7 linked regions of the Homo sapiens genome follow. The protein of the gene in region 3 purifies or fractionates together with the protein of the main gene of each other region. This does not show direct contact. Each region holds a gene or a part of one and is shown on either strand. Other genes may lie near its edges.

Region 1 (3,500 bases), on a different chromosome or scaffold from region 3:
GCTCACCTGCAGCAGCTCCAGGTCTGCGGGCTCGGCCTGGGTGGGCACCAGCTCCGTCAGCATCTCCGACATCACCCTCACGTTCCCACTCACCATCTCCAGCTCACTGCGCAGCTTCCCAATCTGAAACACACAGTTGATCGTGGTGAGAGAAGCCAGGGTTCTGGGGCCCATGTTACTCACAGCGACAGAACCCAGTACCACCAACCCTGGGTGCAGCACCAGGGAGCCGACCTCCCAGCAGCCTCTCTAGGCAGCCTCCCTCCTGGCTCCCAAAGTGACAGCTCTGCACTAGAGGCCTGCCCCACCCCTTCTACAGACCCCTCACAGAGGCGCTACCAACCGTTACCATCTCCACACCGGAATGAGCCACCACGTGTGGCTGGAAGACTCCAGCATCTCCTGGGTCTAACACAGCAGCTAACAAGGCCCTGGAGGGTGGCTCCCCACAAGGCGGGGAGGGACGCTGCAGGCCCTCTCTCTCTCTCCCACTAGAGGACTGGGATTCTGCCCTCTCTCTCTCCTCCTAGAGGACTGGGATTCCGCCCTCTCTCCTAGAAGACTGGGATCCCCCCCTCTCTCTCCTCCTAGAGGACTGGGATCCCACCCTCTCTCCTCCTAGAGGACTGGGATCCCGCCGTCTCTCTCCTCCTAGAGGACTGGGATCCCGCCCTCTCTCCTCCTAGAGGACTGGGATTCCGTCCTCTCTCTCTCCTCCTAGAGGACTGGGATTCCACCCTCTCTCTCCTCCTAGTGGACTGGGCTTCTGCCCTCTTTCTCCTCCTAGTGGACTGGGATTTTGTCCTGTTTCTGGTCTATTTTGGTGTCCCAGGCTCATCTAAGGATAGTCCTTGCCCTGTACCCCACCTTGAATATGAAACTCAGATTTAGCACTTGTTCCAAGGGATGTGGGCAGGTTTTCAATGGTCAAAGGGTTCCAAGGAGTTGGGCTTGGGGAAACATTTTCAATAAAGCTGCAGTCTCCTCAAAGAGGTTAGCTTGTGAAAGGCCATTGGTATAAGGATCTTATGCTGTGGGACCTTGTAGGGTGTTTAATGCCCTCATGCACACTGGGAATGCCTGGGAAAAGATCAGTCTGAAAGCTTCTAAGATTTATTTGACTGAAGAACCTTTTTATGTTTTGAGAAATGCTGGTACATTCTAAATCATGTGGCTGAGTTATAGTTGATTTCAGAGTGTCACTATATACATTCATGATTGTGACAGCAGCTACCATTTATAGACTACCTAATAAGTGCCAAGCATTGAACATATATTGCTAACTTAATTTTTTACCATGGTAGACATCAATATCCCTGCTTTTATAGATGAAGAAATGGAGTGTAGAGACTAGTAGTATATCCACTATGGTTCACTGACACCTTCCAAAACCTGCAAAATGTTTGATCTATTTGGCTTACTTAATGAACACTCTTGGTATGAGTGAGTGGAAAAACTACTGATCACAAACCCCATGTATCCAAATCAGATGGGACTTAATTACAGAGGAGTCTGGGAGTAACATCACTGCACACCTGATGTCTTAACATGTCCCAAGAGACAAAAGGGGACTCTCGAATTAAACAAAGATTAGTTTTGTTTAGCAAGCACCTTCTTGCATTGGAAGTAATTAGCGTCTTAATCCACACAGATGCTAGACTTCAGAAAATTGGTTAAAATCATAACTGAGTTAGACAATCACAAGGTGGTTTTACAATTTTTTACACACCTTTAACCCACTCAGAAAAAAAAAGTGCAGCTCGCTGTCAGCACTCATTTAATTTTACATAAACATGCTCTTTGAGGCTGAAGTAAACCTGACTGATTTTCAACATGAAAATAAAACATAAAAACTGTTCTTGGAGTTATTTCTAAACAGAACTTGTCTCCAATCCTAACGTAACAGAAATGTATATGAGGTTACATTAGGATTAGAGACAAGAGTATTCTTGGGGCAAACGGGCAGTGCGTTAATAATTTTGTCCAGTTAGCAAAATTTTCTAGTAATATCTGTAACTCTGAGGGGTGATTTCATAACTTGCTATGAGAAAACAAATCATGGAAGTTTCTCTTCAAATAGGTTAGGGTGAGAATGAGTTCAAATGATACAAAAAGTGGGCAGTGGGGACGCTTATTGGGAAAGTTAAGCTTCACTTTTCTTTCCATCACACATCCGTGTCTAACTCACCAGCACACTCAGCAGCTCCACCTTTACGCTCCGCGGATGTGATGGGCCTGATGTGTGTACAACACCTTTAACGTGGGTGTCTCCACAGTGTGCAGGCCTCTGCCCCCACCCCAGCAGCCAAAAGTCTAGAATGACAAGCCCCCAGCTCTACGAGCTGGTCATGGCTGTAGAAGTCACTCAGCAGATACAGCAGCCATGGCACTCCACAAGCAGCTCATGGCCCAGTGGGCCATGAGGAGGAAGGAAGTGACATGCCCAGGGTGCCACCTGCTCTGAGGTGGGTAATCCTTCAAAGCTAGTCAGAGGGCTGGGAAAACCTGTCCCCTAGAATCTCATACTAAGCCTCAAACCTTCTTGGCTGGGTGTGGTGGCTCATGCCTGTAATCCCAGCACTTTAGGAGGCCAAGACGAGTAGATCACTTGAGCTCAGGAGTTCGAGACTAGCCTGGCCAACATGATGAAACTCCATCTCTACTAAAAATACAAAAAATTAGCTGGGCATGGTGGCTCATGCCTGTAGTCCCAGCTACTCAGGAGGCTGAGGCAGGAGAATTGCTTGAACCTGGGAGAGAGAGGTTGCAGTGAGCCTAGATGGTGCCACTGCACTCCAGCCTGGGTGACAGAGCAAGACTGTTTCAGAACAAACAAAAAAGCTTCAGACCTTCTTGAGACTTCATGGGAAGCAGCATGGTACAATGTACATATGTTTTTTATTTTTTGCACAGATGTTTGAAAACTTTTCAGGCAGAACCTCTCTTCAAATGAAGCCTTTTTTTTTTTTTTTTTTTTTTTTGAAACAGGTCTCTCTATGTTGCCCAGCCTGGTCTCAAACTCCTGGGCTCAAGCCATCCTCCTGCCTGAACCTTTGAGAAGCTAAGATCACAGACGCACGTGACCATGCCCAGCTCAAATGAAAGCTGTGAGTGTGTAAGAAACCACACAGGTGGAGCTGGCCTGAAGGGGCTGCGTACAGGACACCTCTCCATGGTGCTGTTGGAGGGCCCCGCAGAAAACACAGGTTGGAAAATGGCCAAGGTACAGGGCAGTGCCTGCCAGGAGTCAGACAGACGTGAGCTTGGATCCCAACTGTCTCTGATGACTGTGTGCTCTGGGCAAGTGAATGGACCTCTCTGAGTCTCATCGCTCAAACAGGAAGAACCACACATACCCTGTGGGCTGCTGTGAGGAAGAAGTGGAGGCTCCGTGGATGGTAAATTCTGACAGGGGGCCCTCCCTGACGTGTGTGGCCCACCTGCCTGGACCTGACGGTTCTGACCCCAGGCTCGTTTACCTGTTCCGGGGTTGGTGCTAT
Region 2 (3,500 bases), on a different chromosome or scaffold from region 3:
TTCGACTGAGATACCCCCCACCCTGGGGTCTCAGTGCAGGTCCTGAGGACAAGGACTCTGGGCCTTGAGAAATGGTGACCCCAGGCCCCTCCTCAGACCCGTGGGGTCTACCAAGGACATGAGGACCCAGAAGCGCCTGTCCAGTGTGGTCGCCACTACGTGAAGACAGACCTCCCTTTATTGTAATGGGAGAAACAGCGAACCCCCACGTGTCTACTGACACGGACCTGCTCTGCTTTTGAAAGTATTATTTCAAGGAACAGCTAAAGACAAGGGAAGAGTCTCATACTGACTGACAAAACTCTCCATGCAGAGTGAGCGCAGTCCTGTAATGTGTCCGTGTGCTCACCGGTGCTTACGTGTGTGCATGCGTGTGCACCTGTGCACGGACACCACCAGCTCTGTCTCATGCCTGGAGAAACGGCTGCACAGAAACACTGCCAGGCTGACAGCGACTCCACAGGAGCAGTGACTGGGCCCATTGCTGCCTTTTACGGCACGTTTTCTAAGGACCCACTACAATCCTGAAATGGATTTTGGGGCCGGGAGCGGTGGCTCACCCCTGTAATCCCAGCGCTTTGGGAGGCCAAGGTGGGTGGATCACTTGAGGCCAAGAGTTGGAGACCAGCCTGGGCAACATGGTGAAACCCTGTCTCTACTAAAAATACAAAAATTAGCCAGGCGTGGTGGCACGCGCCTGTAGTCCCAGCTACTCAGGAGGCTGAGGCAGAAGAATCGCTTCAGCCGGGAGGCGAAGTTTGCCGTGAGTTGAGATCACACCACTGCACTCCAGCCTCGGCAAGAGAGTAAGACCCTATCTCAAAAACAACACCAAAAAAAAAGAAATGGATTTCGGGATAACAGAGCCTACTGTTACGGGCTCAATGGTGCCTCCAGAATTCCTGTGTTGCGGTCTGAACCCCCAGGACCTCAGAAAGGGGCTGCACTTGGAGACACAGCCTTTAAAGAGGTGTTGAAGGTAAACCAAGGTCACATGGGTGGGTCCTAGCCCCATGGGACGGGTGTCCTTATAAGAAGAGGAAAATGAGCTGGGTGCGCTGCAGGCGCCTGTAATCCCAGCTACTCAGCAGGAGAATCGCTGGAACCCAGAAGGCAGAGGTTGCGGTGAGCCGAGATTGCGCCACTGCACTCCAGCCTGGGCAACAGAGAGAGACTCTGTCTCAAAAAAATAAATAAATAAAAATAAAAAAGAAGAGGAGATCAAGACACAGACACCCACAGAGGGATGGTCCTGTGAAGACAGTGGGAGAAGACAGCGTCTACAAGCAAAAGGGAGGCCTTGGAAGAAGCCGGCCCTGCCAAGAGCTGTGAGATGATAAACGTTTGCTGCGGAGGCTGCCCCATCTGGGCTGCTGTGCTATGGGGGTCCCAGGAAACGAATCCACTTCCCTACCCACTCGAGTGCAAAAACGCCAAGAGGGAGCTCTAGCTGTAACAGAAATTCTAAAAAGTAACTTTAAATCAAAGCAATTGTGTGTGTGTGTGTATAATTTTTATTTTTAATTTTTTTTTATGTGTGTGTATATATGTTATATATATATACACATACATACAGAGAGAAAGAGAGAGAGAGACAGGGTCTTGCTCTGTTGCCCAGGCTGGGGTGAACTGGTGCCATCACAGCTCACTGCAGCTTTGAACTCCCGGGCTCAAGCAATCCTCCTGCCTCAGCCTCCTGTGCAGCTGGGATTGCAGGCATGCTTTGCCACACCTAGCTAGTTTTTGTATTTTTTTGTAGAATGGGGTCTTGCTATGTTGCCCAGGATGGTCTTGAACTCGTGGGCTCAAGTGATCCCCTTGCCTCAGCCCCCCAGAGTGCTGAGATGACAGGCATGAGTGCCGTGCCCGGCCCCGTGTGTGTATACACATTTGTTTGCTTTTATCTTTGTGAAGAGCTCCTTGGAGAAGGGCCAGCTGCTCCCAAATGGAGTCTGAGACCCACACTTGTGCCCACAGACGCACTCCTCCCTCTTCATGTCCAGTCCTGGGGCGGTGTGTGTGGGGGCAGGGATCCCCACGGGTGGACCAAACACCTCCAAAGAGATTTGGGTTTTATCAAGAGTATAGCAACGTATTTATTTTTTATTTTTATTTTATTCTTTGAGATGGAGTCTCGCTCTGTTGCCCAGGCTGGAGTGCAGTGGCGTGATCTCCGCTCACCGCAATCTCTGCCTCCCAGGTTCAAGTGATTCTCCTGCCTCAGCCTCTGAAGTAGCTGGGATTACAGGCGTGTACCACCACGCCCAGCTAATTTATGTATTTTTAGTAGAAATGGTGTTTCACCATGTTGGCCAGGCTGGTATTGAATTCCTGGGCTCAAGTGATTCACCCACCTCGGCCTCCCAAAGTGCTGGGATTACAGGCGTGAGCCACCGCGCCAGGCCTTTATTTTATTTTTTTAACATATTGTAATGTAGAAATGCCCGGGCCCAGAACACTACAGGGAAAAACAAGAATCCTCTCAAATTTCCACAATGCCCCCAGGGCACTCACCCAGAGAATGGATCTGATTCTGTTACTCTCTTCCCTCATCTCTTTCCATTTTCTTCAATTTTTTTAAATATAAAGAGCTTGTATTATTTTTAAACAAAGAATAAAGTTATTTTTTAAACGTTGGGTGTGGTGGTTCACGTCTGTCATCCCAGCCCTGAGACCCACCTGGGCAACATAGCAAGAGCCCATCTCAAAAGAAATGATTTTTAAAACCTACCAAAAATTCCCAAGGGAAAGGAATGAAGGAGGGAGGAAGGGGAGGAAAAAATGAGGCCTAACGCGGAAAGGGCTGGGGGAGGGAAGAGGAACACCTCCCATGCCACCTCCAACACCAGGTCCCCACTCGGCCAGCCTGGTGCCTTCTCCAAATTTGCCCTGAGCTGTGTTTGCACCACAAATTCCTTTCATGCTGAGAAAAGAGGAGCCCTGCCTGCCCCAGTGCCTACCCCGCAGCCCCTCACCTTAGTGGCCGGCTGCTCCCAGGGGACGGTCCTCAGAAGCTCAGCCACGACATCCTGCATCTCCACCAGTGCCTTGTGGCTGCCCGACAGCTTCTGCTCCAGAGAGGAGACCAAGTCCATGGGCGCTGCTGGGTCCGCCCGCCTCTCCCTCCCCAGGACCCTCCAACGCGGGGACACCAGCAAGACGTCCAGCCTGGGAGACCATCAAGGCTCTGCTCTGCAGGCCAACAGGGCACTCCCTGCCCTTGCTTCCCCCGGGACACACCCAGAGACCACAGAGCCCTGAGGTGGTAACAGCCAACCACGCACCCACACCAGCAAGCAAAGCACAGTCACACGGCCCTCAGGATTCAAAGGGTCACATGCTACCGGTACAATGACAGGCAGTGTGTACAGGGCTTGACCAGCTGGTGCGGCCGACCTCTTCAAACTCCCCCACCAGGACGCCTGAACACGGTTACCCTACAGAGGCATCCCTGGGGCTCCTCCTTCCCCCACCAAGGCCAATCCAAGGAGCAAAAGCAG
Region 3 (3,500 bases):
CTTGGGCTTAAGTTCTGGACTTTATTAACTGGCATCCAACATCACCAAACATGAGTCATAGTTGGCCAGTGACTTGGAGGGGTTCTGAGGACACAGGCCTTTCTGTTTTAACACCTCAGTTCATGGGACTTTGGTGCTAACACTGGGTAAGTCCCATGAGATCATCTGGTTACCCTCAGTGCATCTCGCCATTCTGCTACTGCACCTTCCTGTCAAGAGTTACAGACCTGACCGCCGTATGATGGACCTGACCGCCGTATGATGGACCTGACCGCCGTATGATGGACCTGACCGCTGTATGATGGACCTGACCGCCGTATGATGGACCTGACCGCTGTATGATGGAGCCCATGCTGACCTTTAGGTAAGAGGCAGTGGCTTACTTTTTAAAGAGCAGAGACAGGTACTGACAGCATAAGCAACTGCTTAGTTTTTCATTCAAATGTATTTCAAAGCTTTTTAAAATAAAAAGAAACATGTATAAAGCATGTCTTCTGTCTCCTCGATGTCCTCCACAAATTTCTACCTTTATAATCTGGCACCAAAGGAGCTTCCGTCTACACTAGCAGTGAGAGAAAGTGCAACGTGGGGTTAAAGCATGAGCTCTGGAATCAGGCCACTGGCCTGTCTTTAAGATGGGATAATAAGACCGCACCCGCCTCCTTGGGGAAATGCAGTGTTAAAGGAGAGAAGACATGTAAACCACTCAGCCCAGGCCCAGCACACAATAAGCACACAACAAACCGAAGCTAGGATGTTAATAAAGAGATCGATAAAGTCCTTTCAAACAGCCCAAGATGAGAACTAAGTGCTTACCCATTACTCTGGCGCTCTCCACTTCGCTTCTGGGAACAGCAGGAATACGTCAGTATCTTGAACATGTCGGTGAAGGCACTGCCATCAGGAGGCTTGGTGATGAAAACGCTCTGGCCACAGAGGAAGACCACAAAAGCAAGGCCGACGCAGACAGTGGGGATCGCATAACCAGTGACAAAGCTGACGTTCTGCTGAATATAGGCAATGCCACCTAACGACAGGATCGCTCCCAGGTTAATGCTCCAATAAAACCAATTAAAAAATCTCCTAGTGGCTTCCGGACCTCGATCTTTAACCTAAAATAACAGGGAGGAAAGACACTTGAAAATATATGACAGTCTTCAAGGATGAAAACCATATACGGTCAAGTGGTTAAAATTACCGTTGTCATCACAACCTTTAAGAAGCGCAACACAATCAAAATTGTGTTTACAGAAACATTCACGGATCTCAACAAAAAGCACACCCCACGCTTTTAATTACTACAGTTGCTAGGTAGGTTTCACTTAATTACACTAAATTCCAACAAATGCTAGAGAGTTTTTCCAAGTATATTCTGCTGTAGAATTTTCTAAGTACCTGAACCACTTGCCTTGGAATTACCTGGAATGCTCTTTAAAAACAGAGTCCGCTGGGCATGGTGGCTCACGCCTATAATCCTAGCACTTTGGGAGGCTGAGGCGTGTGGATCACTTGAGGTATGGAGTTCGAGACCAGCCTGGCCAACATGGTGAAACACCGTCTCTACTAAAAATACAAAAATTAGCCAGGCATGGTGGTGGGCACCTGTAATCCCAGCTACTTGGGAGGCTGAGGCAGGAGAATCGCTTGAATCCAGGACATGGAGGTTGCAGTGAACCGAGACTGTGCCACTGTACCTGGTTGACAAGAGTGAAACTCCATCTCAAACAAACAAACAAACAAAAAACAAACACAGTCACAGGACCCACGCTCCAGACCTACTGAATCACGGTCTCTGGGGCCCAGGCCCAGGAATCTGCATTTCAAGCAACTTCCCAGGTGACTTCTACTCACAGGTAAGTTTTAGAACCAATGTTATAAAGCTCCATGCCTTACTGAGCTACATGCAAGTACCATGAGGCACCCCACAAATATGCTTAGGCCCCAAAGAGAGACATTTGTTCAGTGAGGCCAAGTCACCACCCACACCAATTGTATCTGGTCTCCTGAGAATCAGAGATCTCAGTAAACTTGAAGCAAAGAGGAAATTATAGACTAAAGATAAAACCACATGCTATTTTTAGATTAGACAGGCTATCAATGGAATCGGAGAAATTCTGATAAGGGTGGGATTTCCAAAAGGCTCAAAAATCACTGACTTCCTGGACTCAAACAAAAGCACTGAGGTAATAACGCAACATCTAGGCTTATGGAGTTCACGAGGCTACTTCAATGGAGCCCAAGCGGTGGGAACAGGTCATTTGGGGGCAGACACACCAGAAGCCTTCTCTGCCCACCTGGATTTTTACGTCTAAATAAGATACTGTGCAAATGAACCCTGTACTAGACAGAGACATTTCTAGTGAGTTTCATTTCATAAATTTATTTTTAACAAACTTATGAGAGGCTGATACTGGATCTCATAAAAAGACTCTCTTGCTGTCTTAAAAACTTCTACTGTCTCATTCTTAAGTCACAGGTTATGAAAGAGTTAGAAAATTCTTATTCTAATAATAGATCTAGTTTCTGGATCCATAGAACAATCTGCTCTACTGAATAACACATTCTCAATGGGGCCAAAACAACCAATTACGGTTGGGCATGGTGGCTCAGGTCTGGAATCCCAGCACTTTGGGAAGCCAGGGCAGGCAGACCGCTTGGGTCTAGGAGTTTGAGAGCAGCCTGGGAACACAGACAGACCCCCATCTCTACAAAAAATTACAAACATCAGCCAGGTGCGGTGGTGTGCGCCTACAGTCCCAGCTACCTGCGAGACTGAGGTGGGAGGATCCCTTGAACTGGGGAGGAGGTGGCAGTGAGCTGTGATGGCACCACTGCACTCCTGCCTAAGCGACAGAGGCCCTGTCTCAAAAGAAAAAAAAAGATATGGTATGTAATAAGCACATGCATCTTTTTAGCAGTCATATATTTGATATGGTATTTTAAACTCTATTTTTTAAAGATTAAATCAGAGGAGTAAAATTTATAGTTAAAATTGTGTGTTCCTCTCTAAAGGAAATAGAGCAAAAGAAAAAAAATTGTGTGCTCCTCAAAAAGAGATTTGTTTGAAGTCCAAATGATTAAGCATGGCCACTATGGTGGCAGGTAATTAATTATATATAGTAACACCACTTCAAACGAAAAATCTAAATTTAAAAGAAAATCACTTATTCTCAAGAGTTTAAACTTTTCTCTTATCTATTACAATACTGAACAGAGGTCCTAGACCAAATGCAGACATCTCTACTGAATAAAGAGTTTGAGGTGAGAACTTCACAGACATCTAAGACACTTCTTCACTAGGACACAATGCATTTAAATATTGCTCAACAGTGGACACCAATTCTCATGCTATACTAGACATGGACCAGGAAGAAAAATGAAAAATGTGAGCAGAGAAATGGTTACTGAGAAAACAAAACTAGAAGTGCGAAAAAATAACAAACAAAAAGTAATTTTTTGACAAGCATAAAAGAGGCCAGTAAACATAGTATATAAACTTA
Region 4 (3,396 bases), on a different chromosome or scaffold from region 3:
CTCATTCATGTAGAGATGAACACAGTGAGCACCTTGACATATATAGCTACAGATTTTAAAAATTCAGGTATATGTAAATATTTTCTAATAGTTCCCTGAACTATCTCCAAATAGAAGATGATACATATTTTTAACAGAACTAATTTTTAATCTTTATAAGTGGAAAATTATTTAGAAAACTGAAGCCTCTATTCAAGAAAACAATGGAATCTACTGCATAGTATCATATATTGCTAAGCATATCTAATGAATTCTAAGATATTTTTTCACACTTAACATCTCTGAAATCCAGATGTACTTTATAAGGTCATGAGTTAATTTGCAATATTTTTCTTTAATGTTTCATAAAATGACATTTTTATAGTTAATGAAATCTTAAAGTTGATGAAACATAGTATGTGATCTATAAGCAGTAACAAATATATATTCAGTATACATATGTAAATAAAAACATAAACATAAATATACAGAAACACATATAATGTACCTATTTCCTTTCCTACTATTAAATTTGTTCCTGATTGTATGGATGAAATATACCAATATTCAATACTGTTAAGATTTTTATTTCAAATGCTCTGACCTCTTGAGAGTGTGAGATTTATTAAAGATTTATAGAGAATAGGAAAAGACTGAGGATGAGAAAATCCCTCATAGTGATTTTAACAAATTTCATGAATATAATCAGGATGCAAAGAGGAGAAAGTCGCAGTCCAGAATACACCAAATTTTCCACCTAAACTTCTAATACCGCCATCACAAAGCTAAACAAATGATAGCTTTGTGTGTGTGTCTCCCCATGTACTAAAGGCTGCACTGAAAATATGGTTCTTTGGCTTCTCTAAAATCACTGACACTCTTTCTCCCTCTCCTTGATATGATACAGTATTACTATGAAGTATCTTAGTGAGTATTTTGTCAGTCACTGTTGCTGGGCATTCAATGAATTTTATTCATCCCTAGGAAATCCTCTTCCACATGATAGCATTTCCTTCTCCATTTTCTTCTTTCTAGATTCCTAATAGTCTGAATTGGTTCTCTATGTCTTCTATCTCTTTTTGTATTGGGGAAGTTTTCTTTTTGGACTTTAATCCTCCTATTGAACATTTTTATTTCAGCAACAATATTTGTAATCTGTTTATTCATTCTTGTCCTGGCTCCTTTCTGCTACATAGTAATTATAATTTTATAAAAGAGGTCTAGTCTCTTTACTAAATTGTCCTCCATGTTGATTTTGGAACTTAATCTTGAATTTTGTCTCTCACGTTGCTGGCTACCCTCATATGTGTGATGACTGTTAGTTGTACAATTACATTTAAGAAAGAGGATTACATTGCTAGCTGGAATTTCTTCTACTATTATAAAAATAGAACTGTTTTACCAACAAGTCTCTTCTCCGAGTGGGACTTGATGGTAACTATAACTGGGATAGGGCAAATCAACGTCATGGGTCCACAGGTTTTGCTTTAAACATGTGGATGTTGGGCCGAGCATGGTGACTCAGGCCTGTAATCTCAGTACTTTGGGAGGCCGCGGCAGGAGAGTAGCTTAAGCCCAGGAGCTTGAGACCAGCCTGGTCAACACAGCAAGACCCCATCTCTACAAAATAAATAAAGTAAAAATTGTTGAATTAAAATCAAAATAGATAAATGTGCAGGTGCAGAGCCAGTTATCAGCCTTTTAGTTCCCAGAGGCCAGCATTAGGTCCTAGTGTGCCAGCAACTACCAAAAGCCAATATACCAACATTTAATTCATTTCCATTGTTATCTAACTTTGTAGTGGCATCTTTTCATGCCTGTTGACAAGGAAACAAAGCTTTCAAAGTTTGGGTTGAAAATCTGGTACATTCTAGGCTGTGGCTTCCTTTCCTTTTCCATTCTGTTCCGTCCTTTTTATTTGCCACTCTCCCTGTTTGGGAGACAGGACTCCCAAACAGGGAGAGTTGCTGGACTTCTCACTCTTTTGTTCTAACTGACTCTGAATCCAAAGTGTTTCTGGGGCTAAATCAGGCAGACTGTCTCCTATTATTTCTAGACTATTTCCCAATCCCTTCACCTCTAGTATATTCTAGCCTTGTTTCTATCCTGTTATCTCCAGAAAACCTCAATCAAACGTGAACGCAAAATGAAGACATTTTTCGGACATAGAAGGGCTCCAAGTTATCTTTCTACACATTTTTTCTAAGGAATTTATAAGAGAGAGAAAGACATGGAATCCAATAAATAATGGATATAATCCAAGAGAGTAACTAAGGAAGACCCAGGATGGCAGATTTACAGGAGGCCTGCACAGTTACTAGTCACTGGTACAGGAGGAAGAAGATGTGATTAAGATACATAGGGAAAGAAAAAAAAAGGTGGCAATTAAAAACTCCAGAAAAATTAACAAGAAAGAGTCTTAGTAACAATTGGAATAACACTTCACGTGATTTTAAGAATAACAGAGTAAGGAAGATTTATTTGAGCCTGATGTTTGGAGCACTAACTGGTGGCCTAAGTAAGAGTCATGACATTAGACCCATATAGAGAAGGAAGTGTAATTCTAGCACACAAGTTTGCTTAGTACAATATTTGCCTGAACAATATTTACATAGTCATAATAATGTAACTTTTAAAAGTGGAGGCAACAATAGAGTAACTAAAAATTAACAGTTAAAACAAAGGTTGCCTCTGAAGGATGGAATAGGGGTAAGGATGCATAGGATACAAGATTTTACGATCATCAGCTCTTTCTATACCTGTGCAGTCCAAAACGGTAGCCACCAGCCATGTGTGTGGCTCCAGAGTACTTGCAACGTAGCTAGTCCTAATTGAGATTTGCTGTCTTCTGAATTGTGAAGACTTTGTATTTAAAAAAAAAGAATGTAAAATAGCTCATTAATCATTTTTAACGTTGTTTACATGTAGAAATATTTTGGATATTGGGTTCAATAATATCTATTATTAAAATTAATCTCACTGTTCCTTTTTTCCTTTTTAATATGGCTTCTAGAGAATTTAAAATTATATATGTGACTCACGTATAGTACAACACTGTAAATCTATACCATTTGATATATACACATATGACCGATGATCATTATACTACTAACAATATTATAAACTAAAACATAAACTCCCTCTGAATTGCTACAAAATCTTAATTAACAAGTTCCAAATCAATGTCCACAGTAGCGCTGTAGTAACTGGAAGGTCTAGGGCAAATTTAGTGCTGAGACTGTGGCACAAAAACATGTACCTTACATCTTAGCCTAGAACTGCACCTTGAGGAATTTCCTTAGTGGGAAGTGGGTTCTGGTCTCTCTAAAAAATAATCCCACTGTTCATAAAATACTTCTTTAAAAAATTATGGCAAACCTATATAAAAGCAGAGGGAATAATACAGTGAATTTCCTA
Region 5 (3,500 bases), on a different chromosome or scaffold from region 3:
AACAATACAAAAATTAGCCAGGTGTGGTGGCCCATACCTGTAGTCCCAGCTACTCCAGAGGCTGAGGCAAGAAGTGCTTGAACCCAGGAGGTGGAGGTTGCAGTGAACCAAGATAGTCCACTGCACTCCAGCCTGGGCGACAGAGCGAGACTCTGTCTCAAAAAAAAAAAAAAAAAAAAGACAATGGCTGAACAGAAAAGGAGAGAGAGAGAGAGAAATAAAGATAACAGCTGAAAAAAATTCTAAAAATAATAGAAGACATCAAACTAAAGATCTAAGAAGCTCAGAGAACAAGAAGCAGAAAAAATACCACGAAAAAATATGATCTAGACTTTCAAGAAAGCTTCCAGTCATCCTGAAAAGGCCATCCACACAGGAACAAAATAGCTAAATGGCAACTTATGCGGACTAGGATTCCCCATCCTCTTACATCATGCCATTCCACAGGGCCCTTTGATAACTGGCACAGCCTCTTGGAACTACGATCCAATGCTGAGATATTTGGGGGTTAGAGAACAATGAAATGACCAAGATTACATTTTTATCATCCAGGTGGAATTAGGATTTATAATAGAAAGCCAATTGAATATTTAAACTAAGTATAAATTTTACAAAATTGAATTTGTGGACCTTGTGCCTTGATTTTTTAAAATAAGTACATTCTTCAAATAATTTTTCTTTAAATGAACACACACTGCTATGGATCAAATATCTGTGTCCTCCTAAAATTCATATTAAATCCTAACTCTTAATGTGATAGTATTTGTAGGTGGGGTCTTTGAAAGGTTATTAGGTCATGAGGGTATATCTCATGAATGGGATTAGTGCCCTTATAAAAGAGGACCCAAAGAACTCCCCTACCCCTCTGCCATGTGAGGACAGAGTGAAAAGATAGCCATCTATGAACATTGAAGTGGGCTTTCACCAGACCTTGATCTTGGACTTCCAGCTTCCAGAACCATGAGAAAGAAATTCATGTTGATCACAGGCTATGGTATTCTGTTTTAGCAGCTCGGACTAAGACACACAGTAAGGTAGGACTGTTTGTTCCATGAGGGCAGAACTACATTCATCTCATTCAGTACTGTTCCTACCACAACAACAGTGTCAGATACATAAGATCAATATGTATGTGTTAAATAAATATGTTGGATGTTAATGGAAATGTAAAAAATTTCATTAGTGTTTTTTTTTTTTTGAGATGGAGTTTTCCCTCTTGTTGCCCAGGCTGGAGTGCAATGGCGCGATCTCGGCTCACCACAACCTCCGCCTCCCAGGTTCAAGTGATTCTCCTGCCTCAGCCTCCCGAGTAGCTGCGATTACAGGCATGTGCCACCATGCCAGGCTAATTTTGTATTTTTAGTAGAGATGGGCTTTCTCCATGTTGGTCAGGCTGGTCTCGAACTCCCGACTGCAGGTGATCTGCCTGCCTTGGCCTCCTAAAGTGCTGGGATTACAGGCATGAGCCACCATGCCCAGCCGAAAACATATTTTAAAGAAAACAATTATTCTCACATTTATCTGTTCTGTAATATTTTTGCAATGACTTCTCTTGAAAAGATACATACCTAAACAAAAAAGGTTTCATTATTTAGTATAAAAATGAATATGTTATGGTAACATAACAAAGTGGGGAACATTCAGGGTACATGAAAAATAATCACAATCATACATCACTGCTATTACAACTATTACATTTCAACATGAAAAATTGCTACGAAACTTCTAGTAGAAAAAAATGGTTTCGTTTAAGCTATAGGTGTTAAGCTGTCATTTAGTTTCAATTTTGTTTCAATAATACAGTGTTTTGTTGTTGTTGTTTCTGAGATGGAGTCTCGCTCTGTCACTCAGGCTGGAGTGCAGTGGCACTATCTCAGCTCACTGCAACCTCCATCTCCCAGGTTCAAGCAATTCTCCTGCCTCAGCTCCCGAGTGGCTGGGACTACAGGCATGTGCCACCACACTTGGCTAATTTTTGTATTTTTAGTAGAGACAGGGTTTCTCCATGTTGGCCAGGCTGGTCTCGGACTCCTGACCTCAGGTGATCCACCCACCTCAGCCTCCCAAAGTGCTGGGATTATAGGCGTTTGAGTCAGCGTGCTCGGCCGATACAGTGTCTTTTTAATGCACGTGTGTTCCTAAAAAGATCATTAATTACTCAGGAACAAGAGTAACATCTTAATTATATGGGCTTTCCTATGTTTATCCCACACCTCATCTAAGGATAATGTAATGGACAACTGGAAGTAAAACAAAATCTATCTCTAAAAAGTCAACAGGGAGATCACCAGACCAACATGCTGTATTTAAGCAAAAGTACCTTAGGCTTTCACTCAGAATCATTTCTATACATATAATTTACACACGGGTCAAATTCACAAAATGACAACAAAATAAATAAATATCACATGCCTACTCCATAGAAATGCAAGGAAAACAGAAGTCTTTAAAAATGTCCAATCATCTCTCAATGAATTGCCAACATCTATTTTTACTACGGGCTAACAGCTTGGGACCCGGGCTCCTGCCACTCAAGAATGGCACCTAAACCAGCAGCAGCAGTTGGCAGCTTGTTAGAAATGCAGACTCTTGAGCCTCACTCAGGACTACTAAGACAGAATGCACATTTGAACATCTCCAGATGACTGATACTGAGAAGCACTGACCCAAAGGCTAGATGAATGAAAGATAAACCAAGCAGCTTCTAATGAGAACACTAGCTACAGTAAAGTTTATATAAATTCCAATCACCCTTAAAGCAAACCAGCCTTAAATACATACCCATCCTCATAGTTCCACATGAATATATCACTGTCAATTGTGAGCCAAGCTCTGCTGATAGGAGGGAACACACCCATCATGCAATTACACTGCATATCTGAGGTAGTGTGGATGTAAGGCAGACAGAGGTGAATCTTATTCTTCTTTAACTTGTTTCAATAGCTTTTGACTTAATATTTACGTAAAAAATCACAATGTGTCCACTCTTTAATACAACATGGAACCCATATACTTAAACGAATTTTAAATAAAACCCTTAAATGAATATATAACACATTAATTAAACATAGAACAAGAATTATAAGAATGAAAAATACCAATTTTAACATTTTTAAAATAAATACAAAGTAATAGGATACGTCCAAACTGCTCAACAAGTTCAGGTGGGAGAGGAACTCTTCGGATGGAACTGATCTCTGGAAGGTTGGGTACGGACAGCAAACCAGGTCCTTGCAAAGGATAATCCATATCTGACATGCCAGAAACGGTGGGATTATCTACAAAAAGAAAATGAAGTATTTATAATAATGTACTGCTCATCAACCGGGCAAACAAAAGGATTGAGTGCCACAAAAAAATTGTTGTGTGTTGGTTCCAAAGGTACAGAGAGAATATTCTAGTTTTGACCCAACACAAAGTAGTCCTGAAATATTCCCTTGTGAAGGTAGGAACAGTTACTGGTTTCAGGCCTAAAGGGAAAGTCATATCTCAAAAAACTT
Region 6 (3,500 bases), about 83 Mb from region 3:
GGTGGCAAACAAATGCAAATGCAATGGTGGGTAAAGCATACACGGTCTATTTGAGAGAAAAGAATAGACATTAGGAAAAACACTTTTACCATAAAAAGGACATAGCTCCAGTATTTCTGAGCTGTCTTTTTATCTGACAGCTCTTCAGAATCCCTGGATTATTCGGTTATTAGGGAGGTTTTGATCTCTAAAGTAGAAGCAGCTTTTCTAAGACAGCTTGTCTAGCTCGAGCCATTAGCCACTTGTCACAGAGGGACTTCGGATTTGGCTCACCTATGGTGTATTTTATATACTCCAGGTATACAACACCCCCTGTTTATACAGCATGAGCCAGTTACATGGCACTCTTCCTAGGATAGCTCGCTGGGTCCCCACAGCAATCCCAAGCAGTAGGCAGACTGTGGCTGTTCTCCTGGCTCCCTCCAACAGGTCAGGCGACTGGCCCAGCACTCCCACCTCTAGTTTACTGCTCTTCGCTCTACATCAGGTGCATGGAATCGGACTTAAAAGATACCCTCTGAAAAGAAAATCTGTTCCATATTGCACTACTTTGGCTATATCCTTACAATCAGAGAGAAGGAGAAAGATCGCGATCTATTTAGTTTTCTTAGATAAGGCTCTTTGAAACTCTCACACTCAATCTAACTTCCTATGCAAAAAGAAGTGAAAACTAACCTATCTTATGCCCTAACTCTGCTGATGCACTATGCCAGGCACATTCTAACAAAACCTTGTAAGATACAGAATAGAATACTTATTTTTACTCAAGGGGTTGGGTGACTTGCCTGAGGATTCAAATCCAAGCCTGACTGACTCCATAATCCTCTGTTTCCCATTGTATCAACAATATTTTAATAGTATGAGAGTTTTTTAAGTGCCAGTTTGTGGTGGCATCTATATTTCAACTGTGCAACCTGAGGAAGTCTGCAGTATTCCTTTCTGTCATCGCCAGAAGAAGGGAGCTAAGGATGTTGTTAGTCTGTTTTTGAAGTATCACCTAGCACTCTACACAGAAAAAGCTGAGACAATTATCCAGAATGGGATTTTCACAGAGAATGCTTAATGGTAAGAGAGAGTGTAAAATATAATATTTGTATATTTCTCAAGGATCTCTACATAGATGTGTAATCTGGAAGCAATGGTATCATGTGTTCTTTTGAGAACTAATACATTCAAACCAGTGCAATTACAAGCATGAGAAATAGAATGTCCTTAATAAAAATGCTTGTTTCATCTGCAAAGGATCAGGAAACTTACCTTTGAATTGAAGGTAACATATTTTGGCGTACACGTGTCAGCATTTGTTGAATTAGCACTTATTGTTGAATTTAGCTCTGGAACAATGCAGGGAATTTGAAATTTCTTGTAAATAACCTGGTATTAAGAAGTATAGTAGAAGCAATATGGACTTTAGTAAAGCCAATGAATAATTATTACATGCCATTGTACTATCACAAAACCAAACCAACCATTGCAATCAGCACTTACCACAATTAGGAAAAAAACCATACAGCTCAAGGAAAATCCACTAGTATAGCCAAGATACCCTTTAAAAAAAAGTAAAAAATAAATTATTTCATTTTTTTCCATTTTTAAAAATTTTGGAGCTACCCATCATAAACTGTTATTATTTCAAAATTCATCACCTCACTTATTTCAGTGCATTATTTGAAGCATATTTTAGAGATCCAATAATAAACATACATGCCCAAGTGAATACAAGATTTATTATTTGACAGTGCTACTTTATTTGGCAAAAAAATGGGGCTCTGAATAGAAACATTATATTACGTGTTTTGATTCCAACTCTCCCTGGCACACTAGAGAACACAGATTCCCAGAATCCAGCAGAAAAGAGCCTTCCAATTTTTGCTGTAAGTCTGTGTTGGTGGACCCTGATGGAGTCCTATGGGCAAACCCATTTACTCCTTGATCCCCTCAATAGCTCTTTATTATGCACTTATTGTGTGCATACTGAATGTCAGTTATAATACTTTTCTCCCCAGATGACAGAGAGTAGATGAAGCGAATTTCTAGTGGTAAATTGAGTATCTGGGGCTCTTTAGTAGCTCCCCTTAGAATGCCTGGGAGATCTCCAATTGCTACCATGACCTCCAGAAAGGTAGAGTTAAGTAGCCTCTCGGGACTGCATTATTTTCAACCCAGGGGAAGAGCTTTTCTCTACTTAACTGAAAAGAGCTACCTCTATAGGTACAGAAAACACAGAGGCAGAAACCAGAAAATTAAGTAGTTAAAAAAATCTATTTATAAACCTCACAGAACAACTACAGAGCTGTTTTGTTTTGTATCCAAAACAAAACAAAAAACTAAGGCTCATAATTATTGTTTGGAGAGCTTTTATCCAAACTTCTGTTTGAATTAGCCCAGAATTAAAGTAAATACATTTTATAGGTTTTTGACTAGATGGCAGTCTGGTCACATTATTCAATGTATGAAATTCCCTTAACATCAGGCATCCTTGTCTCCAAATACAAGCATAAAAACAAGTAGTAGATCAAAGCCAAATGGATATGACTTGGAGATTATCCGCCATTTCTGACTTTTGATTTCTCTCTCCCACTTCGAAGAGAAATAATTGAGGCTGGTCAGACTCTCTAAATTTATAATACTTGTGGGTATAAATCTAGGCAGCTTTCTGTCTCCATATTAGATTTGAAAATGTATTTATCTAAATAATGAGGGTATTTAAGACTTCGTATGAAGAGAATTGCATTTTCTGGACTTTTCTTAGAGTAGCATATAAGTTGTACTACTGAAAATAGCCCTGTCTGTCCTGGCCCCAGGACCTCCCTTCTCCCCTCCACAGCTCAGTAGAGGGATTGTTTAGGAGGTCACATACTGACTGTTATTTTTATCCCATATTAAAGTTGGGACCGATTAATACTTGCAATTTATCATGTACTTAATCTTTGAGTGCATGCAGAGGGGAAGCAGAGGGCAACACTGTCCATTTTTATTCAGTTTCTGATTCACTTGGGCACTGCAGAATATGATAAAAGCAAAATCTGTCCTTACCTAAGTTCTTCAAGAGACACAGAGGGAGAATTATGCCAAAGGTAACTATCACCACCAGAACGCGGCCATCCACGTACCAGGCTCTGAAAGGCATTTAAGTGATTAGGTTATATTTTTTTAGAAAGTGACTTTTTTCCCCTCCAATGTAAAATTTCATGATATCATGATATATATTTTTATTAATTTTTACTATATGCATTAATTTTTAAAATCATTATTCAGGTCTTATCCAAACACTTTAACCCAGCCCCTACTTATATACTACAGCTTCACTCCCCTGTAATGGAAGAGGGAATATTGGTTTTTTTTTTTCCCATTGGCTAAATGTGGCATTCTTTTGAATTATTTACATGGTTTCAAAGCTGAATGCACACATTTCATTCTGTCAGATTACAACTTGTCCTATCAATTATTTAAAGAGAAAGCTCCTTTTTGTTTTGCTGGGCTAGTATCAGTGAGAAACA
Region 7 (3,500 bases), on a different chromosome or scaffold from region 3:
AAAAAAAAAAAACGAGAAAACAAAAACAAAAAACCCTGAAGAATAAATGCAAAGAAAAATGTCTGACTTCTGAGAAATTTAAGCTAAGTGATCTCGAACAGTAATTCTGAAATTACTGTCTTATATGACACCTGGGGTCCCTGAAGTAAAAGACTATTTTTATTCTAATATACAAAAATTAAAAGCTTTTCACTCTCACTTTTCAGAAGCTACATGAAATGTGACACGTACCTGTGTCATCTTGAGTCTTTGAGAAATTTCTAAGGTAGAAGTTTAGGGTATAATATAATATATAGGTGGTCTCAGAGATTAGCTCAATTTGTTCTCAGAACTTTTAACTGACTTCTTAACAGCAAATTTAAGTTACACCTATTATAACCTGTTATCTCATTATCATCCAATAAATAATTATTTTAAAATCCTGAAATTTCTAAAAATATGCTAACAAGGCCATTCTTTTGACTACTTTATTTTGGAAAATATAGTTATTTTTCATGAAACTTTTTTTTTTTTTTTGAGATGGAGTCTCGCTCTGTCACCAGGCTGGAGTGCAGTGGCGTAATCTTGGCTCACTGCAACCTCTGCTTCCCAGGTTCAAGCGATTCTCCTGCCTCAGCCTCCAGAGTAGCTGGGACTACAGGCGTGCACCACCACACCCAGCTAATTTTTTGTATTTTTAGTAGAGACGAGGTTTCACCATGTTGGCCAGGATGGTCGGGATCTCTTGACCTTGTGATCTGCCCAGCTCGGCCTCCCAACATGCTGGGATTATAGGTGTGAGTCACTGCGCCCGTTCAAAACATTTTTTTTTTTAATGTTAACGTGTAATCGCCTTATTTTTGCTTTTTAAATGAATAAATAACTATTTTAAAATTTCTCAGTCTTGAGGCTGAGGCAGAAGGATCGCTTGAAGCCAGAGTTTAAGACTAGCTTGGGTAACGTAGTGAGACCATGTCTCAAAAAAATTTTTCTTTACTTAGTTTTAATTTTTAATATACTATCAATACAGATAGCCACATATACAAAAGACAATGTAAGGGGTCCTAGCATCAAAAAGTTTGAGAATTACTCATCTAGAAAGATTTGTTGCAAATGGAAAAATAATAAAAAGCTGAAATTAAACTAGGTATGTACATAAAAGCAGTAACTGGATTCCGAACATGGCTGTTTTGCAAATATCTCTTGTCTTCGCTTCATTTTTTTATTTAGTGAAAGCTAATTAACAGATTTAACCTTTTACCCAGCGATTCCACTTCACAGATATATTCTGCAAACATAAGCGCAGACAGGGTGATATGTGTGTTGGTTAAAAAAGATGATACTTCCATACTATGCAATACTACACAGCTATGACAGAGAATGCTAAAAGCATTCTATGTGCTGATATGGAAAAGATCTTAATATAGTTGCTAGGTGAAAAAAGCAAGGTGCTGAATGATGTTTAAAATGCTACCTTGGAGCATTTATTGAAAAGCTGGGGGAAGACAAGGTTTTGCTGTTTTTTACCGTCTTGATTTTTCAACTATGTGAATACGGAGCCTAGTAGGAAAAAAAAATTTAATAAAATGAAAGAAATGAGAAATTACAGGTAATACATTTAAGTATGATTTTTATATACAAACAATTTCTAAGTAGTCTAAATAAGGGATCTAAAGACTCAAAGGAAAGGGCTTGGCCCTAAATCAAAGTTTTGGTGAATAAAAATACATACATGTTTTAAAGATAAAATAAAGGGGCCGGGTGCAAGTGGCTCACACCTGTAATCCCAGCACTTTGGGAGGCTGAGGCGGGCGGATCACAAAGTCAGGAGTTGGAGACCAGCCTGGCCAACATGGTGAAACCTCGTCTCTACTAAAAATACAAAAATTAGCCAGGCGTGGTGGCGGGCGCCTATAATCCTAGCTACTCGGGAAGCTGAGGCAGGAGAATGGCTTGAACCCGGGAGGCAGAGTTTGCAGTGAGCCGAGATCGTGCCACTGCACTCCAGCCTGGGCCACAGAGCAAGGCTCCGTCTCAAAAAAAAAAAAAAAGATAAAAGATATGATTTGGCTGGGCACAGTGGCTCATGCCTGTAATCCCAGCACTTTGGGAGGCCGAGGTGGGTAGATCACGAGGTCAGGAGTTCAAAACCAGCCTGGCCAACATGGTGAAACCCCGTCTCTACTAAAAATACAAAAATTAGCCAAGTGTGATGGCAGGCACCTGTGATCACAGCTACTTGGGAGGCTGGGGCAGAGAATTGCTTGAACCCAGGAGGCAGAGGTTGCAGTGAGCCGAGATCGCACCACTGCACTCCAGCCTGGGCGACAGAGCGAGACTCCGTCTCAAAAAAAAAAAAAAAAAAAAAAAAAAAAAAAAAAAAAGACATGTATTTTTTTTTTAGATATCCAACTTTTATCTGATTTTTTTTATTAACTACTAATACTGAATGCACTGCCTACGAGGGCCATTAGGAACTCGGCGGTAATAAATGTAGGGCATTCACCTTCTCATTCCACCAAGCCCCAAGATTCTCTGGGGCCTGCCCTTGGAGGGAGGTTAGGAGTTCTAACAACAGTCCGATCTCCAGTTGCCAAGGCGGAGAATTCGGTTTCCCATGGCTGGGCACTCTGGGCTCCCTTGGGCAGGCCAATTCTGTGGCTTTCCCGGCCTCTTTTCCTTGTGCAGGTCAGAGGGCCCAGCCTCTGCGTCTCTGCCTCTGCCAGGCCCAACCAGGGGCCCCCTGAGAGGTTTAATGCCCACGGTAGTGGGGGGAGGGGGGAACAAGATAGTGGGGCTTCGTGACCCTGTGTTCTAGGGCCTGCCCTCCTGTCCCCTAGGTGGGCATGAAGCCCTGGCTGGCGACAGTCGATGGGGCGGACTCTGGACTCCTTATCTCCTGGCATTCCACCAGCCCACCAGCCTGGAGGTCAGAGAAGCCCCACTGCAGACACCCGGTGAGTCCCGGCTGGGCTGAGCAGCAGGTCCCTTCCCTGCTCACTCCCCAGCCTCCCATGTCTCCAGGGAGTCTGGAAAGAGTAAGAGACTCCTCCAGAAGAAACTAACACCCCCTCCCTCAATAAGCACAGGGACAAATGGCCCCTTCCTCTTCTAGTTTCCAAGCAAAGACTGGAGGTGTCAGCAATTTCATAATCACATTTAGGATCAAAAATAGAACCCTTCTTTGGTCTTCTCCATCAAGTCTCTTGGCCACTGGCAACCATGTGACTCGGGAATACCAATTCACCTCCCTGGATCCAGTTTCTTTCACTGTAAAATAAAGGTGCTGGACTCCAAGATCACCAAAGTCCCCTGCTCAACATTCCATGGTTGTGGGGCTCAGCAACATGGTGCAGCATTACCTTGGCCAGGTCAGGTGCAGGCAGGCTATTATCCTGACATAGTGGGGAGAGGGAGGTCCTGGTTCCCAGGCACGCACAATCTATTCACAACACTACTGTGTAAACCCCATGATTCTGCAAATGTTGGACAGGGATTGAGTTTCCTCTTGGAATAGTGCA

What was found.
Region 1: the proteins of SLC15A4 (region 3) and TOM1 purify together in Homo sapiens (affinity purification with mass spectrometry; one large-scale study listed by BioGRID and IntAct). This does not show direct contact.
Region 2: the proteins of SLC15A4 (region 3) and TTYH3 purify together in Homo sapiens (affinity purification with mass spectrometry; one large-scale study listed by BioGRID and IntAct). This does not show direct contact.
Region 4: the proteins of SLC15A4 (region 3) and SMCHD1 fractionate together in Homo sapiens (co-fractionation; one large-scale study listed by BioGRID). This does not show direct contact.
Region 5: the proteins of SLC15A4 (region 3) and NUP155 purify together in Homo sapiens (affinity purification with mass spectrometry; one large-scale study listed by BioGRID and IntAct). This does not show direct contact.
Region 6: the proteins of SLC15A4 (region 3) and SLC38A1 fractionate together in Homo sapiens (co-fractionation; one large-scale study listed by BioGRID). This does not show direct contact.
Region 7: the proteins of SLC15A4 (region 3) and SLC39A14 purify together in Homo sapiens (affinity purification with mass spectrometry; one large-scale study listed by BioGRID and IntAct). This does not show direct contact.

Annotation. Positions count from the first base shown.
Region 1 is NC_000022.11:35,323,894-35,327,393, reverse strand, and holds part of TOM1 (target of Myb1 membrane trafficking protein), read right to left. Parts: coding exon 3,480-3,500; intron 124-3,479; coding exon 7-123; intron 1-6.
Region 2 is NC_000007.14:2,652,486-2,655,985, reverse strand, and holds part of TTYH3 (protein tweety homolog 3), read right to left. Parts: intron 3,069-3,500; coding exon 2,976-3,068; intron 1-2,975. UniProt on the Homo sapiens protein: Calcium-independent, swelling-dependent volume-regulated anion channel (VRAC-swell) which plays a pivotal role in the process of regulatory volume decrease (RVD) in the brain through the efflux of anions like chloride and organic osmolytes like glutamate.
Region 3 is NC_000012.12:128,813,959-128,817,458, forward strand, and holds part of SLC15A4 (solute carrier family 15 member 4), read right to left. Parts: exon of another isoform or gene 1,420-3,500; intron 1,113-1,419; coding exon 817-1,112; intron 1-816. UniProt on the Homo sapiens protein: Proton-coupled amino-acid transporter that mediates the transmembrane transport of L-histidine and some di- and tripeptides from inside the lysosome to the cytosol, and plays a key role in innate immune response.
Region 4 is NC_000018.10:2,798,726-2,802,121, reverse strand, and holds part of SMCHD1 (structural maintenance of chromosomes flexible hinge domain-containing protein 1), read right to left. Parts: intron 2,842-3,396; coding exon of another isoform or gene 2,739-2,841; intron 1,600-2,738; exon of another isoform or gene 1,382-1,599; intron 1-1,381. UniProt on the Homo sapiens protein: Non-canonical member of the structural maintenance of chromosomes (SMC) protein family that plays a key role in epigenetic silencing by regulating chromatin architecture.
Region 5 is NC_000005.10:37,361,107-37,364,606, forward strand, and holds part of NUP155 (nuclear pore complex protein Nup155), read right to left. Parts: intron 3,279-3,500; coding exon 3,141-3,278; intron 2,879-3,140; coding exon 2,782-2,878; intron 1-2,781.
Region 6 is NC_000012.12:46,203,044-46,206,543, forward strand, and holds part of SLC38A1 (sodium-coupled neutral amino acid symporter 1), read right to left. Parts: intron 3,120-3,500; coding exon 3,037-3,119; intron 1,548-3,036; coding exon 1,489-1,547; intron 1,375-1,488; coding exon 1,258-1,374; intron 47-1,257; coding exon 1-46. UniProt on the Homo sapiens protein: Symporter that cotransports short-chain neutral amino acids and sodium ions from the extraccellular to the intracellular side of the cell membrane. The transport is elctrogenic, pH dependent and driven by the Na(+) electrochemical gradient.
Region 7 is NC_000008.11:22,370,278-22,373,777, reverse strand, and holds part of SLC39A14 (metal cation symporter ZIP14 isoform a precursor), read right to left. Parts: intron 1-3,500. UniProt on the Homo sapiens protein: Electroneutral transporter of the plasma membrane mediating the cellular uptake of the divalent metal cations zinc, manganese and iron that are important for tissue homeostasis, metabolism, development and immunity.